Linked DNA regions of Homo sapiens: all the other regions are linked to region 1. The links come from fine-mapping of genetic effects on gene expression. A gene starts in region 1. Each other region holds a variant in brackets. All regions are shown on one strand. Distances are between the middles of the regions.

Evidence for each region. PIP is the estimated chance that this variant, and not a neighbour inherited with it, causes the effect. A credible set is the group of variants that fine-mapping cannot tell apart.
Region 2: its variant is the best candidate, but not a certain one, in a credible set for the expression of EHD4 in whole blood (INTERVAL, PIP 0.75).
Region 3: its variant is the best candidate, but not a certain one, in a credible set for the expression of EHD4 in cerebellar hemisphere (GTEx, PIP 0.52).
Region 4: its variant is the best candidate, but not a certain one, in a credible set for the expression of EHD4 in whole blood (INTERVAL, PIP 0.66).

What each region holds. Positions count from the first base shown.
Region 1 is chr15:41,971,166-41,973,907 of GRCh38, forward strand. EHD4 (EH domain containing 4) reads right to left here and starts at 1,392. Exons shown (of 6, transcript NM_139265.4): 1 at 1,094-1,392. The coding sequence starts at 1,329. PLA2G4E-AS1 (PLA2G4E antisense RNA 1) reads left to right here and starts at 1,598. Exons shown (of 4, transcript NR_120334.1): 1 at 1,598-1,833; 2 at 2,639-2,742. RefSeq lists silencers at 834-1,103, 1,204-1,273, 1,314-1,443.
Region 2 is chr15:41,873,037-41,875,778 of GRCh38, forward strand. SPTBN5 (spectrin beta, non-erythrocytic 5) reads right to left here. Exons shown (of 68, transcript NM_016642.4): 22 at 2,422-2,586; 23 at 1,806-2,020; 24 at 1,256-1,442; 25 at 809-1,009; 26 at 456-572. Among named protein-coding and RNA genes, the nearest start is that of MIR4310, 7.9 kb to the left of the region's middle. The variant G/A (reference allele first, on the strand shown) is at 1,241.
Region 3 is chr15:41,888,640-41,891,381 of GRCh38, forward strand. It overlaps SPTBN5 (spectrin beta, non-erythrocytic 5), which reads right to left. Exons shown (of 68, transcript NM_016642.4): 4 at 1,450-1,566. Among named protein-coding and RNA genes, the nearest start is that of SPTBN5, 4.0 kb to the right of the region's middle. RefSeq lists an enhancer at 2,130-2,742. The variant T/C (reference allele first, on the strand shown) is at 1,605.
Region 4 is chr15:41,076,805-41,079,304 of GRCh38, forward strand. All of the region lies in intron 9 of INO80 (INO80 complex ATPase subunit), which reads right to left. Among named protein-coding and RNA genes, the nearest start is that of INO80, 38 kb to the right of the region's middle. The variant C/T (reference allele first, on the strand shown) is at 1,557.

The DNA of each region.
Region 1 (2,742 bases):
TATTTAGGTCACTGGAGTGGAGAAAAAGAGGTCGCTACTTAACAGAAATGGCATGTATCCAAATATAGATGCAGTTTTCTCAACACCTGTTGCACATCAAATGATGAAGAGATTGTTACAATTTCCAAAACCCTGGACCAAAACCTTAAATGATCAGCACTTTGTTTCAACTGATACACGGCTTAAGTCAGAAAAATAAGTTCTTCTTACCAAAAACAGTGAGCCTAAATATGCTGGCTGCTTTAGAAATAAAACAGGTGATCAACAAAGCAATCTGTTTCTGTCTAAATAATTTCCCAGCAAAAGTCACTTCTTTTGAAACTATATGATTTGAACCACAGGGTATGCACAGTGATTGTGTGCTTTCAGAAACACGGTAAGCATGACAAATATTTTCAGTTGTCAAGGGTAAGCGAGGAGGGAATGACCCACCTAAGAAATGGAAACTAACAAATAGTAATATGACACTCCCCCTTAGTTCCACAGGCTGGTGCGGCTGCTACACGCAGCTCACTTCCTACGGGCGGCTAAAGGCGGTGCATGAACTGAACGTAGGCGGCCTCTTTATCCCCTCCCCACAACACTGTGGGGTGGCACGTAAAGACCTCAAGGGAAGGGGGCCTGGGCGATACGCTCTCCTGCTGCCATTCATTTGTTCAAGAAATAGTTGAACAAATGAATAGTTAAACAAACTCTCCAACTAGGACTCTGTCCCATTCGGATACCCTACGCCTCTCCCCCCATTTCCATCCCTAGGCATCACTCCCTCGTCAAGAATATGCTGATTATGGCTCGCGCCCCCTCTCTCCCTTGGACCCTCCCGCCAGGGCGACCGGACGAGGCCAGCGGGAGCAACGCCTTCCGAACCGCAAGGAAGGAGGGCTCGGAGTGCGCAGGGCGCGGGTTCGCGGGACCCTCCAGCGCGCGGGGCTGGCCAGCCGGGGCGGGGCCGAGGGCACCGGGCGCCGAGCTCCGGGAGGGGTCCCCGAGGTCGCGCCGGCCGGGAGGGGCAGCGGCGGGAGGCGGCCGACTGCGGCGCACACGTGGGGAGGGCGGAGCGGGGCGGGAGCCGGGCGAGGGGCGGTGACGGTACCTGATGAAGGTGGTCTTGCCGGTGCTGTACTGGCCCACCAGCAGGATCATGGGCTTGTTCTCGAAGTCGGCGTCCTCCAGCGCAGGCGAGTGGAACTCGTGGAAGCGGTACGCCTCCTCCAGCGGCAGCACCTTGCGCAGGTAGAGCGAGCGCAGCCCGCCCGTCACCGTCTGCACCGCGTCCGCGCCGCCAGCGCGTTCGCGCCCGCCCGCCTGCCGCCCCATCCAGCTGAACATCCTGCCGCCAGTCCACGCTCGGATGGGACCCTGCTCCGGGTTCGACTCTCCCCGGCTCGCACTGAGCCGCCCCGGCCGCGCTGGCCGCCGCCCGAGGAGGGCCCCGCCTTGTGCTGCCACAGCCAGTCTTCGGCCGCTACGTCACGCGCGCTCGCCCACTATTCAGACGAGCTCTCTCAGGTCCTTCCTGATTGGATCTCTGCCAGAGAGGGCTGAAGGCGTCAGCCAATTGAGAGGAGGTTCTTAATGAATTATTGATGACGGAGTCATTCTAGAGGACTGGGCGGGGAGATGGTGTCTTCCCGGCCGGGTGGCACTGACCGGTCATGCTCAGGGCCCCCTTCTGGTTGCCGGTGCCTCACCTCTGGCCAGGTGGCATCGGCTTCCGGGTAAATCTGAGCTGCCCAAAGCGAGCCTCCGGAGGCTGCTCCATCTCCTGGAACGTTTACTCATTCAGGCCTCTGGACGTCGATACTGGGGATGAAAAGTTCAGAAAGTGGACAGGCAGGTTCTGTCTTCCCGGGGGCGGGTGGTTATGACTCCGTTTTACAGGCCAAGAGACCCAGGCTCACGGGCATAATTGACACAATCTTGAGGGGAAGTGGACTGGAATCTATTTGAGTAGCCGTTTCTCCTACTTCTCCACATTGCCCTCACTAAATTCTGGATCAGCTAAAGGCTTTTTCCCCTTAGTTTTCTTTATGTGTTTTTCTGTAAAGCCGAAAATTTAGTCATTACTCTCATTATTACATTATCCTCATTATTACAACTTTATTTCCACATATTGACATGTGAGTCATTGTCACCTCCTAGCTGTTTTTTGTTGTTGTTGTTGTTTTCTGAGACGGAGTCTCGCTCTGTCGCCCAGGCTGGAGTGCAGTGGCACGATCTCGGCTCACTGCAACCTCCGCTTCCCGGGTTCAAGCAATTTTCCTGTCTCAGCCTCCTGAGTAGCTGGGACTACAGGCGCTCACCACCATGCCCAGCTAATTTTTGTATTTTTAGTAGAGATGGGGTTTCACCATATTGGTAAGGCTGGTCTTGAACTCCTGACCTCAGATGATCCGCCTGCCTTGGCCTCCCAAAGTATTGGGATTATAGGCGTGAGCCACCGCCCCTGGCCTGTTTCTTTTCTAGGTTAAAAGGATACTCACTTATCTAAGTTGAGATTGGGGGAAATAATCACCTTTTGTGTCCTTGATTGTAGCTTAGGAATATTTCTTAGTTGTTTTAGAGCATTTCTCAAGTGTGATCCATGGGGCCACCTGCATATATGCATTTATGAGCTGGGATGCTTGTTAAAATGCAGATTCCTGGTCTTCAGTCCAGACCTACTGAGTTAAAATATTGAGGAGAGATGGAGCTCAACAGATGCCCTAGGTGACTCTGATGTGGCCTAAGTCTGGGGAAACA
Region 2 (2,742 bases), 98 kb before region 1:
CTTCGAGACCTCCCTCCCTTCAGCCAGGGGATGTTTGTGGGAGGAGGTCGGCTTCATGAAGGGCATTTGGTTAACTCAAAGGATGACAGGTAAAGCCTGGGAGGAAGACACCTGTGGGAGATGTGGAGCGGGCTGGGCAGGTGACCTTGACAGAGGAGAAAGGTGCCAGGGGTGGGGTAGAGAGGAAGCAAGAGGAGGCGGAGAAACCCCAAGGCCACAGGGAGAGGCAAGACTCGTAAGAAGATGAAGGGAGAAAGCGTGTACATCACAGTGCCCAGGTTGCCTTGGAAGAAGGGGCACTGTGGGATCTGGGTGGGAAGTGGGGATGGGGCTGTCTGTGTCTCCAGGAAGCAAGAGCAGGGCTCCGTGCCTCTGAGAGAGGGAGGGTGACAGCCCTCTCCCCGTGGTCCATCATCACCCAGACCACACTGCAGGGGAGGCTCAGGACGTGGTACCTGGTGCTTGTTAATGAGCCTGAGGGTGGCTGCCTCGTCTCTGCCATAGTCCCGACTGCTCACCAGCGGCCGCTTCTCCTCCACCCAGCCCTCCAGCTCTGACACATCCAGAAAGTACTGCCAAGAGTGGGGCCAACTCACCTGGAGGATCTCAGACAGGACCCTCCGTCAGCCCTGGAGACATCTGCCCCTGCTCTCCAGCATCAAAGGGGCTTCTGTGCCCATAGGGGCACCCATCAGCTCCCAGCCCAGAGCCCCCACCACTGATCCGCCTCCCTGAGAGTCCCACAGGTGGCCCCTCAAGGAGCCCTGACTTCTGCCTCTTCCCCCAACCCCACCTCTCTGCATCCTACCTGCTGGAAAGTGACAGCCTGCTGCAGACACTGGGCCCGCGCTTCACATGCCCTCTCCAGCTCTGCCCAGTGGCCTTCCAGCTCCTGGCACTGCTCCACGATGTGTTGGGCTTGGGGGTGCCCTGAGGCTGCCAGGCTCCGCCCAGAACTCAGCACCCGTTGCACCTGCCCCTGGTGAGCTTTTACCTCCACCTGGAGCTCCTGCCACAGAGTGGCTTGAGAGGCTGCTGCTCTTAACCCAGGGGCGTCCGGAGCAGAGCCATGGATGTGGCTCCAGGCCCCAATCATGGCAAGACCCCCAGGGTCAAAATAGCTGGGGCAGAGATTTGGAAATTGGGATACCCAGGGGTGAGGGCTTAGAGGCCAGGACACCTGAGTAGGGGCAGAGGGTTTCTAAGGTCTGGGAAGCGGATGTCGGTAATCCTGTAGGAA[G/A]AAGAGGGCTATTACCTTGTGCTTGCGGTGAAGGCTCTGGGCACCATTCAAGCACTCGGTATAGCTGGTGGGGCTGCCATGGGGCATGTGCTCGGCTACCCAAGAGAGCTCCATGTTGCTCAGGTGGCAGAACTGGTGCAGCTCCACTGAGGCCTGCAGCTGCAGGCCCCGGATGGCCAGATGCCCCTGCAGAAGCTCCAGCCTAGGAGGAGGAGGAAGAGATTGGAGAGGTTGGGAACAGAGTGAGCACAAGGCTCCTGGTTCTTTCCTTGGCCAAGCCAGGGCCCGTGAAGAACAAGACCAGGGAATAGAGCAAAGCCTCATCTGACAAAGGGAGGCAGTGGAAGGGCGCCAGGGCCCCACCTCATGGCCTAGATGACTCGCGTGACTGCACTGTGGGGGTCCTGCTAAGGAAGCATAATGGGGTCTCCGACCCTCCCATCCCAGAATGACTCTACTCATAAGGGAGGAGGTCTGGACACCCCGGTCCTGTGGGTGCCATCTTGTGGGACCTTAAATTCACATGGAGGAGTGACACACAGGTGGGTGGGAGGACAGACCCCACCTCCGGAGGTGCTTCTGGGTCTCTTCCAGGATGGCCGGGGAGGCGGCCATGCCATGGGCCATGGAGGCGAGGGCAGCCATCTTGGCAGCCAGGGTCCGGCTCTCACTCTCCAGCTGTTGGTGCCGTTTCTGCAGCCTCTGGCTGGAGCGCAGGTCCTGCCCTGTTTCCGAGCTCTGTAGGGCCCCTTCGAGCTGCTCCAGCTGCTCCTTTGCATCCTGGGAGGGACGCATGGAGCTGCATTAGGTTCTCTGTGTACAGCACAGCAAGTGGCCTTCCCGGGCTCTGGGACTGTTGGACTTTTAGGACCAGATTCACCAGGGAGCTCTGTCCCCACCACTGCCAACCCTCGGCCAGAAGTGCCCAATCTTCCCCTGTTCCCTCACGCTTCTTCTTCCCTGGGGGACTCAAGTGGTGCTGACCACCCGCTGGGCACACAGGAGAGAATCCTGCATTGGCCGACTGAGCGGAAAGCCACGCTCAGCTTGTCCTAGGCCAGAAGCCTCCAGAGGCTGCAGAGCCAGGGTCAGCAGAACACCCAGACTTCTCCCTCCCCGTTCTGTCCAGCCCAGCCAGGCCTCCGTCTCCCTCTTGTGCCCTGTCCCTCTTCCCAGTGGACCTGCAGCTGCCTCAGGAGTTGCTCCTGCTGTCCAGCCTGCTGGAGCTCGTCCCCACGCTCAGTCATCTTGCGGTTCAAAGCTTCCCACTTGCTTCTCAGGCCTTGAAGCCTGGTCTGTATGTCCTCCTGGCCACAGGGCCTCCTACTCAACAGCTCTCTCCCAACCTGGAGTGGAGATAAAGGCCCAGGGAGTTTGGCTGAGCTGCTGGTACCACCAGTGGCCGCAGCAGGCTGGACCTGGGTGGCAGTGGAGGTGAGGGGGTGACCACAGCTGCACTCCACGGGCTGCCTGGAAGAAAGCAGTTCATGTGGCCCCAAAAC
Region 3 (2,742 bases), 83 kb before region 1:
TAGTTGGAACGGGGTTTCACTATGTTGGCTAGGCTGGTCTCAAACTCCTGACTTTAAATAATCTGCCTGCCTTGGCCTCCCAAAGTGCTGGAATTACAGGTGTTAGCCACCATGCCCAGCCTCACTTCCTGTTTATAAACTCAAAATATCAAGGCTCAGCAGGCTGCACTTCCCCTGCCCTCTGGGCCCCAGAGCTTGGGTAGGAAGGACGTGCATGGTGCCCACATGAGGGGGAGTGGAGTCTCGAGGCCCTGGGCCCCAGCGAGGTCAGGCCCCAGTACCCTGCATGGTGGGGCCAGGCTGGCAGACGGAACTAAGGAAAATGCTGGGATGGCTTGTGAGGGATCGGGGCTAGCCTGAGCCCAAACATATCTGAGTCAGCAGGGAGCAGGGCTGGAGGGGGCTGCAGACAGACAGAGACGGTGCTGGTCAGGGAGGATGCCCACCTGCTGCTCCCAAGGGCCTGGGCTGCAGGGGACACCTGAAACTGGCCAGGGGCCTGAGGAGGTGAGTATGGCTTCCTGAAAGGGCTTGAGGTCAGTTAGAAATTCATCCGTCCCTTCAGCCTTCAAATAGATGCTCAGCCTGCAGACACACAAGACCCCTGCTCTCCTGGGGCTCAGGCCCTGAGTTTCCAGGCCATCCTGGACTTCTGCCAGATCTCTGGCTTCTTTTCATGAGGGTTTCATTCTCCAGGTTGGCTTTCCTTACCTACTAGAATTGAGTTTTAGGTGGCATTTTGGAAATCATGAAACTATGAAAAAGTATAACTATAAGGACTCTTTCTTTTTTTTTTGAGACACGGTCTCACTCTGTGACCCAGGCTGGAGTGTAGTGGTGTGATCTCGGCTCATCACACCCTCAGCATCCTGGGCTCAGGTTAGCTTCCCACCTGAGCCCTCCCGAGAGCTGGGACTACAGGCATGTGCCACAAAGAGTTTATAGTCTTTCTGATCCAGTGTGGGGGAAAGAGGTGGAATGAAGGAAGCTGGGGACCATGAAAGAAATGCTGTATCTTTGGTGTGTAGGGTGCCAGGGACTTTGTAAACCTCCAGAGCTGGGACTCCCTCCACACATTTCATTTTTCCCAACAGTACATTGTGGTGTAATGGAAGTTACAGAGCCTCAGTGCCAAGTGGGGAGCACCACACAGGGGTGAAAGTGGGTGCTGGGCAGTGACCCTGAACCCCCCACTAGTGAATGACTTGCCCAGACCTGGTTTGAAGCCCATGGCCCTGGCCCTCACTTTAGCATATTACAATGTTACAATATCTCTGGTATCCTGGGTTCTTCACCCATGGTTGGAGAGTGAATATGGACTTTGCAGTTTCCAGGATCTCCTATGGGGATCATAAAAGTTGTGTGGAACTTATGAATCCCCAGGGGTCTGAGGTGAGGCCAGGGCTGGGCTGGGTCACCAGGTGCTGGGTACTGGGGACTGAGCCATACCTTGTCCAAGGAGATGTGGGAGATCTGGAAACGCAGAATGATGACCCAGATGAGTCCCAGGATGAGTGTCTGGTCTCCGTCCACGATGTTCTCTGGCCCGATGAGTGGTACTGGCACCTGTGGGCACAGTTGGATGGGCTAAGCCATGAAGCCCA[T/C]GTCCAGAGAGGACTCAGTCACCAAAAGCTTAGGGGGCCAGCTGCGGGATGGGAGCATCCTGGAATCTATCCTGCCCCAGCTGGGAGTTCCCTCAGGGAGAAGCAGGCAGGGGATAAGTCCAGGAAAGCAAAGGCTTCCTGCCTGGTTGGAGCCATGGCCTCAAGCCCACCTGGGTGAAGCCCCAACCTGGTGAACTGGGCTGGGCCCTCAGAGCAGGAGGACTCCCTGTGTGTGGGCTACAGGTAGACCTGGGCCAAGATCAGTGGTTCAGCTGCAGGGTTTGGAAATGAGGGGTCATAACAGTCAATGTGTGAGCCCAACAGACAATAGCAACTGTCTGCCTCCATCTCCCAGGGTGTCCTGGGATCTTCAGGGGGTGGCTGGGTCCCTGGGCTCACACCCAAATCTCAGCCCTCTTCTTCTGTTCCGGCTCCAACAGGGCCAGCTATAAATCCAGACTCCCAGGCTCCACCCAGTCAGACTGTCTTGGGCCAGAGCCTGGGAATTTGCACTTGAACAACACCTTGGGTGGCTCTTAGGTACACCAAAGTTGAGACTCCTCTGCCCTACATCCTGCCATTTGGACAGGGAGGATGGGTGAGTCAAGGGGAGAAGCCCTGCAGGATCTGGCCCCCAGCCCCCTGTGGCTCCATCTTCCACCCTGTGGAATCACATAGCTCCAAGGCCCATGGGATTCTTATAGTTCCATGGGATTCTAAGCACAGGACTTCAGGCCTTTGCAGGGCCGTGCCTGCTGTCTGAAAGTATTCTCCCAGGTATCTGCATGGCTATTCACCTCCCTGCCTTTAACTCTTCACTCAGATGTTGCCTAGCCTGACCACTTTATTTAACACAGAAACTTAAGGACTATTTCTCCCACCCAAATACACACTCTCGATCCCCTTGCCCTGCTCAAGTGAGGATCTTGGCTTTGTTTTCTGGTGTATCCTAGGGGAGTGGCACACAGCAGGCAATCGATCAGTAAGTACTGAATGGAGAAAGAAAAGGAGTGAGACTTTCCATAAGACCTGAAGGGCAACTGGCTTCAGCCGGCCACTACTAGCCCTGTGGGAGGAGCTGCAATCCTGGGTGTCCCCCTAGGTAAACTTTGGTATATCTGGCTGGCCTCTAAAGGAT
Region 4 (2,500 bases), 890 kb before region 1:
TCATTCCTAAGATAAACAATAAAATGAAAACATAATCCAAAATACCAAATTATATGGAACACAGAACACAGTATAAGTAGCATATTAAAGAGTCATTATTTTGTTTTCTTTTTCTTTTTTTGAGATGGAGTCTCGCTCTCTCACCCTGGCTGGAGTGCAGTGGTGCAATCTCGGCTCACTGCAACCTCCATCTCCCCGGTTCAAGCGATTCTGCTGTCTCAGCCTCCCGAGTAGCTAGGACTACAGGTGTATGCCACCACACCCAGCTAATTTTTTGTATTTTTAGTAAAGACGGGGTTTCACCGTGTTAGCCAGGATGGTCTCGATCTCCCGATCTCTTGATCCGCCCACCTCGGCCTCCCAAAGTGCTGGGATTACAAGCGTGAGCCACCGCGCCCAGCCTTGTTTGCTTTATTTTTTTTTTTTTCCAAAAAAGAGCATTATTGGTCCAAGAGTCATTATTTTGAATTATTTCATAACAAAATTCATAAAATATACTTGATTTATCCTTGATCCACTCTCCCAAAAGAAAAACAATACAATAGGGAATACAGCAAAAAAAAAAAAAAAAACCCAAAAGGCTGAAAGTATATTTTATAAAGCAGTAACCTACGTAAAACTATCCTGTCTCTTTAAAGCTTTATAGCACTTGAGCCAGATCCAAAATAGAAGAAAACTTGAGAAAGAGAGTGAGAGAAAATTAAGTTTTTGTCTTCATGAATGTTCATGTTTCAAACCTAAAGTGCTATCAAGAAAATCTTTGTTTTTTTCTGAAGAGATGGTATCTTACTCTGTCACCCAGGCTGGAGGCAGTAACAAGAACACAGCTCACTGCAGCCTCAACATCCCAGGCTCAAGCAATACTCCCACCTCAGCCTCCAAAGTAACTGGGACTATAGGCATGTGCCACTACACCTGTCTAATTTTTCTACTGTTTATAGATATGAAGTATCACTATGTTGCCCACACTGGTCTTGAACTCCTAGATTCCAGCGATCCTCCCGTCTCTGCCTTTCTGCTAGGATTATGGGCATGAGCCAATACACTCAGCCTAAGGAAAACTTTCTAAAGTAAAACAATTAAGAAAAAGAATAACATCTTTTTTTTTTTTTTTGAGATGGATTCTTCCTCTGTCACCCAGGCTGGAGTGTAGTGGCACGATCTCAGCTCACTGCAACCTCCACCTCCCGGGTTCAAGCAATTCTCTGCCTCAGCCTCCCAAGCAGCTGAGATTACAGGCGGCCGCCACCATGCCCGGCTAATTTTTGTATTTTTAGTAGAGACAGGGTTTCACCATGTTGGCCAAGCTGGTCTTGAACTCCTGACCTTGTGATCCACCCACCTCGGCCTCCCAAAGTGCTGAGATTACAGACGTGAGCCACCGCGCCCGGCCAAGAATAATATCTTTAACCCTAAAGAAGTTAACTACCATATGATTAAATGAACGAAGTAGATTAAGAAAACAGAAAGGATATGTCAAAATTTTATTTCAGAAGTTCAAAGAAAAATGCATAAGTCAGCATAACCATCAGTTAGCTATCAACATAACTAAGAAT[C/T]TAGGTCTCAGAAATCTAGAATATAGGCCAAGTTGCCTGCAAAACTTCAAGATCTGTGGCTAACTCTGAAATGACTTTAAATTCTCTGAGTTAAGAATTCCCAAAAGCATCAAATGTTTACTAACTTGATAATTATGATTACCTTGCATGCAAATATACGAATTAACCAGGAGACTTAAGAGAACTGAGCAAAATCCATCTTCATTCTCGAAGTCATGATAAAATAAGGGAAGATCAAGAGCTCAGAAAAGGCTCCAAAGCTCCACTTTGACATGAGTTACTACATATACCTGAAAGAAAACATCATCCAAACCACTAATTCCCTTCTTTCTTCAAATCTCAACTCTCCTTCCATTCATCTCAGCTGGTTTATCAATGGCAATACAATGATTTGCCTTCTTACTCTCTCCTCTTGCTTCCCTCAGCAATATACACAGCCTACATCAGCTGGCATCAGGTTTACCAACAGTACTGGCTGCAAGTTAAAACAGTAAAGTAGGCTGGGCATGGTGGCTCACGCCTGTAATCTCAGCACTTTGGGAGGCCGAGGCAGGCGTATCATCTGAGCTCAGGAATTCAAAACCAGCCTGGCCAACATAGTGAAACCCTGTCTCTACTAAAAATACAAAAAATTAGCCAGGCATGGTGGTGGGTGCCTATAGTCCCAGCTACTCAGGAAGCTGAGGCAGAATTGCTTGAATGTGGGAGGCAAAGGTTGCAGAGCCGAGATTACGCCACTGCACTCCAGCCTGGGCGACAAGAGTGAAACTTCATCTCAAAACAAAAAAATAAATAAAACAGTACAGTAGGTGAAGGGTAAGTCTTAGAAAACTGGGCTCATTGTCCACTGTCCCTATCTGGCCCTGAATTTGGCATCTATTTCTTACTGTCCAAAAAAAGCAAAACTGCAGTCAGCACCTACAAACAAACCAAGATGAATTAAA